2 separate regions of the Homo sapiens genome follow, and region 2 is linked to region 1. The links come from fine-mapping of genetic effects on gene expression. A gene starts in region 1. The other region holds a variant in brackets. All regions are shown on one strand. Distances are between the middles of the regions.

Region 1 (2,899 bases):
GACCCCTCCACCTCCTGCGGCTGCTCCCCTCAAGCTGGCCAAGCGGCTCCCGACTGAGCCGGCTCTGCCACTTTCCCGCTGAGCCACCACGCGCCTCAGTTTCCCCATCTATAAAGCACGGGTGGCTCGACTAAATCACCACTTTGCACGTCAGCCTGGCGAAGGGCAACACGGGTTAAAAATGCAGACCACCGCCGGGCACGGTGGCTCACACCTGTAATCCCAGCGTTTTGGGAGGCTGAGCCAGAAGAATCGCTTGAGCCCAGGAGTTCAAGACCAGCCTGGGCAACACAGGGAGACCCCATTCCTAAAAATAATATTAGAAATGCAGACTGCTGAGCGCATTCCACACCTACTGACTCCGAAACCCTGGAAAAGGGGCCTGGAAATAGCACCTTCAACGAGCGCTGCTCCCACCTCCCCCAAGGTGACATCAGGTCCGCGTGGGAAACACTGCCCTAAACGAGCAGGAAGTAGCACTCGGCACGCCCAGGCCCAGGGTCCTCTTCGGTGAGGGGCGGCTGTAAACACCTGGAGGAAGGGTGGGCTGCGCAGCCAAGCCCCGGGAGGGGAGGAACGCAGGCTCTGCTCACAAAGCCCCGCCGGCGGGCCGCGGTCGGACCCCGGGACAGTGCCTGGGGCGTTCCGGGCCTGGGCCTGCCTCCAAGGCGGCGGCCAGGGCTCCACGAGGCGAGCCTGCAGCGAGGCGCCGGCGCCCCCAACCACGCGCTCGGCGGGGGTCCCCTGGCGTTATTCTCGGGGTCCGAGCCCCGCCAGGCCCAGCCCCTGCCCCGCGCCGCGCCACCGGGCAATACCCTCTCTCTGCTCGCCGGGCCTCAGTTTCTCCGTTTGCAAAACCAGGCTCACCGGGCTTAGGGATCCCACCTGGGATCCTCGCGGCCTCTCGGGTCGGGAACGCCGCGGATGTGGGGTCACCCGGCCGCGATCCCGCTGCGCCGCTCCGGCCAGGCCCTGCCTCCCGCCCGGGCCTCAGTCTCCCGCATGTACAGGACGGGGTTCGCGCGCGCACCGCCCGGGCTCCCCGCGGATTCAGCCTGGGCCGGCGCTGCCCCGAGCCTCAGTTTTCCCGTCGTGGTCAGCTCGCGCAAGAGGCGGGCGCAAGCGACCCCCACCCCGGCCCCGGCCTTGCCTCAGGCCTGCGGCGCAGACCCTGCCGCCCGCCGCCCCGGCCCGGGCCTCACCGGCAGGCGCGGGACGATCTCCACGGAGCAGCAGTGGCAGAAGTACCGTCCGGGATGCGGCGACGCCTCGGCCATGGCCGCCGCCACCTACTCCGCGCCGCCCGCCCCCCGCGCGGCACCCGCCGCCGGCCGTTTGCTGCTCCCTCGCCGGCCGACGCGCCCGCGCACGCTCACGCACGGCACGCACGGCACGCGGGGCGGAGCGGGGGCGCGGGAGCGGCGAAAGCTGCGTACTCGGCGGGCAGCGGCCCGGGCGACGGTGGCCGCTGAGAGACAAACTAGGCCCGGCCGTTGGGCGGGGCTCCAAGCGGGGGCGGGGCTTCCGGCGGGGGCGGGGCCAAAGCAGGCGGCGGAAGAGACGAGAAGCGGGGCGTGCGCGGGGCGGGGCCGAGGCCCTCCTCCCCTCCCGAAGCTGCCCAGGCCTTCGTGTCCCTCAGTGCTTCCCTACCTCATCGCCGTCTCCCCTCACGGTACTTCAGCCCACTGTCCCCACCGTTCCTGGGGCTCGCCAGGCGCCCTCTCCCCCGCCCGCTGCCCGGTGCAGCGCTCTCCCGACGCCCGCGTGGCTTTCTTCCAGGTCTTTGCTCAAATGTCAGCTTACAAGGTCTTCTCTGCTGCCCTCCTGCTCCGTGGCACTGATTCCCTCCCGATGCACTGTCAGGTCAGCTGCGCAGCAAAGGGATTTTTGGACCCGCAGCAGCGCCTGACACACAGCAGGCATTCCCTCAGCGCTGCGGAATACAGGCAGACCCGGGGCTCAGGGCGCTGTCTGGGCCTCACTGGGACCCGTGGGGTCAGACAGAGGCTGAGGTCTGTGGGTTGTGGCCTTGTTTCCAAGATGCTCCACGGGCTGACGGCCCAGGCGCCTCTCGGGTGCGGAGAAGGCAGGAAACCTAACCCCTGCTTCCAAATTTAATCAGTAGAAACGGTATCATCACCCAGCACAGGCCAGGATCATTTCTGAGGTTAGTTCTGGCCCAATCATGCATGCATTTCTTTTTTCTTTTTTTTTTTGAGACGGAGTCTCACTCTGTCACCCAGGCTGGGGTGCAATGGCCCGATCTCGGCTCACTGCAACCTCCGCCTGCCGAGGGTTCAAGCGATTCTCCCGCCTCAGCCTCTCGAGTAGCTAGGACTAGAGGCACCCGCCACCACACCGGCTAATTTTTGTATTTTTAGTAGAAACGGGGTTTCACTATATTTGGCCAGGCTGGTCTTGAACTCCTGACCTCGTGATCCGCCCGCCTCGGCCTCCCAAAGTGCTGGGATTACAGGCATGAGCCACCGCGCCCGGCCTCATGCGTGTATTTCTTTCTTCACTCAACACTCATTGAGCAACTACTGCACACCAGACCCTATGCTGAATGCACGCAGATACCCCCAGTCCCATGAGATTGGACAGGAGCGTGGAACTCAAGGGTGACTCTGGCTCTGCCTGGGGAAAGAGAGAGAGGGCTTCCGAGGGGTAAGGACATTGGAACCAGGGCTGAGGGATGAATAGGATTTGGTTGGAGTTGGACTTCCTGCAAAATGAGGCATTGGAGCGAGACTGTTGAGGAATTAAGAGTTGGAGCCTGTGCATTTAGATTTTTTGTTTGTTTGTTTGTTTTTTAGAGATGGAGTCTGGCTCTGTTGCCCAGGCTGCAGTGCAATGGCGCAATCTCGGTTCACTGTAACCTCCGCCTCCCGGGTTCAAG
Region 2 (2,899 bases), 31 kb after region 1:
CCCAACTTAATATTATGATAATAAATTAATAATTATGTTTATTATTTTTCCTACCTCCAATATAGAATTAACTGCAATAGTTGTGGTATTAATTTGAATCATTATTATAAAAACATATTTAGAATGAAGATAATACTTATTATATTTATTATAAGTTCTATTTCAATTATAATATTAACTACAGTAATTTCAATATTCTCCTTTTTTTATTTCTTTAATTTTTTTTTTTGAGACGGAGTCTCGCTCTGTCACCCAGGCAAGATTGCAGTGGTGCAATCTTGGCTCTCTGCAAGCTCCACCTCCCGGGTTCACGCCATTCTCCTGCCTCAGCCTCCTGAATAGCTGGGACTACAGGCGCCCGCCACCATATCCGGCTAATTTTTTGTATTTTTTTTTAGTAGAGACAGGGTTTCACCGTGTTAGCCAGGACAGTCTCGATCTCCTGACCTCGTGATCCGCCTGCCTCGGCCTCCCAAAGTGCCGGGATTACAGGCGTGAGCCACCGCACCCGGCCTTTTTTTTTTTTTTTTTTTTGAGACAAGGTCTCACTCTGTCACCCAGGCCGCAGTGGTGTGATCACAGCTCACTGCAGCCTCGACCTCCCAGGCTCAAGCGATCCTCCCACAGCAGCCTTTCAAGTAGCTGGGACCACAGAAGCACAGCTCCGGTGCGGAGGACTCTGCGGGGAGGAGGGGGTGGGTGAGATGGGGGTGACGGCTGCCCGTCTGGGCCTCAGTCCACTCATCTATGAAATGGAGGCCCAGTAATCCATTTAATGCTCACGCCGGCCCCGTGATAATATTAGGTTGGTGCAAAAGTAATTGCACGAAAAAAATTAAATGGCAAAAACCACAATTAACTTTTTTTTTTCCGACAGAATCTCACTCTTTCCCCTAGGCTGGAGTGCAGTGGTGCCATCTCGGCTCACTGCCACCTCCACCTCCTGGGTTCAAGTGATTCTCCTACCTCAGCCTCCCGAGTAGCTGGGGATACGTACAGCCACTTGCTACCATGCCCAACTAATTTTCGTATTTTTTTTTTGAGACAGAGTCTCGCTCTGTCCCCCAGGCTGGAGTGCAGTGGCGCGATCTCGGCTCACTGAAAGCGCCGCCTCCCGGGTTCACGCCATTCTCCTGCCTCAGCCTCCTGGGTAGCTGGGACTACAGGCGCCTGCCACCACATCCGGCTAATTTTTTTGTATTTTTAGTAGAGATGGGGTTTCACTGTATTAGCCAGGATGGTCTCGATCTCCTGACCTCGTGATCCTCCTGCCTCGGCCTCCCAAAGTGCTGGGATTACAGGCATGAGCCACCGCACCCAGCCTAATTTTCGTATTTTTAGTAGAGACAGAGTTTCACCATGTTGGCCAGGCTGGTCTCATACTCCTGACCTCAAACAATCCACCGTGTCCCAACGTGAGGGGGACTGCAGGCTGGCGGGGGAGCTGGGGACACTGCAGCCCAGGACCAACCTATCCCGTGCCTGGTGGGGGCTCCTGCAGGAGGGGACCCACCCACCCTGGCCCCAATATACATTTTAATAGTTATTATAACAATATGTTTAAAACGAGGCAGGGCATGGCGGCTCACACCTGCAATCCCAGCACTTTGGGAGGCAGAGGCGGGTGGATCATTTGAAGTCAGGAGTTCGAGACCAGCCTGGCCAACATGGTGAAATCCAGTCTCTACTAAAAATGCAAAAATTAGCCAGGTGTGGTGGTGGGCGCCTGTGATCCCAGCTACTCGGGAAGCTGAGGCAGGAGAATCGCTTGAGCC[C/G]GGGAGGTGGAGGTTGCAGTGAGCCGAGATTGCACCGTTGCACTCCAGCCTGGGGAACCGAGACTGCCTCAAAAAAAAAAAAGAACATAGTGACAGTTACAGTAACAGAATATGTACTTGTTGCGCCTGTTGCTTCTTCTGTGCTTCTTTTGCCTCCCTGCCTTATCCTCCTGTTTTCCCTTTGTTGCCCTTTAAATCCAGCCCCTGCTGAGACTCCCCCTCCTGCAGGAGCCACGGCGCCCCCAGCTCCCCCACCAGCCTGGAGTCCCCCTCATGTCGGGATACGGTGTCCAGAAAGAAGGGGCCCGACAGGTGAGCTCACCTGTGGCTGAAGCAGTGGGCGGCCGAGACCACCCAGCGGGCTCGCAGCAGGAAGCCTCCGCAGTGATGTTGGCCCCCGAAGCGCACGGATGCCATGTAGGGCCTGGAGTGGGGGGTCACCTCGTGGCCCCCGATGATCTGGGCCCCCCAGGAGCCTGCTGGAGGGACGGCCTGAGTCAGGGACGAGGCGGGAGGAACGGATGACGGGGCTGGGGTCAGGGCAGGGGGAGAAGTAGCGGCCAAGACAGAGACAGGGGGTGAGATTAGAGACGGAGAGACCCAGAGAGCTGGAGACAGAGCCCAGACAAGCCCCCCAGATGCGCTGGGAGGGGCTCCCGAGCCCGGGAGATCCAGGGCTGGGCTGGGCAGAGACCCCGGCCGGATTTCCATCCATTTCCAGCAGAGGCAGCCACGGGGGCTCGGCAGATGGAGCAGGTGGAGCTCTCCCCAGGGTTCTCCCGGGACTGGGGGTTCCCGGGTGTGGCCCCCGTACGGGGACTTGGCGGGGGCCTGGGTGGGGATCCCGGGGGGCTCCTCACCGGGGGGCTTCACGGGCAGCATCAGGGCGGTGGCCACAGTCAGCAGAGGACGTCCCCAGCCCCTCAACCCGAGCCCCATGGCAGACGCAGGCTGGCGTCTCCCCGCAGAGGTCTTCGGGCCGTGGCTCCCACCCTCAGCCAACGGCCGGAAAGGGGGAGCCTGGCTGTGGCCTGTGGTCGGGAGGCCCCACCAGCAACGCCTGGAGCCCAGGCGGGCGTTTCTGAGAAATCGATGGTCTCAGGTGGTGGCTGGTAATAATCATG

Evidence for each region. PIP is the estimated chance that this variant, and not a neighbour inherited with it, causes the effect.
Region 2: its variant is the best candidate, but not a certain one, in a credible set for the expression of RNF126 in whole blood (TOPMed, PIP 0.56).

What each region holds. Positions count from the first base shown.
Region 1 is chr19:661,845-664,743 of GRCh38, forward strand. RNF126 (ring finger protein 126) reads right to left here and starts at 1,370. Exons shown (of 9, transcript NM_194460.3): 1 at 1,203-1,370. The coding sequence starts at 1,277. RefSeq lists enhancers at 1-46, 337-386 and silencers at 437-726, 1,217-1,696.
Region 2 is chr19:692,717-695,615 of GRCh38, forward strand. PRSS57 (serine protease 57) reads right to left here and starts at 2,736. Exons shown (of 5, transcript NM_001308209.2): 1 at 2,636-2,736; 2 at 2,098-2,251. The coding sequence starts at 2,714. The variant C/G (reference allele first, on the strand shown) is at 1,776.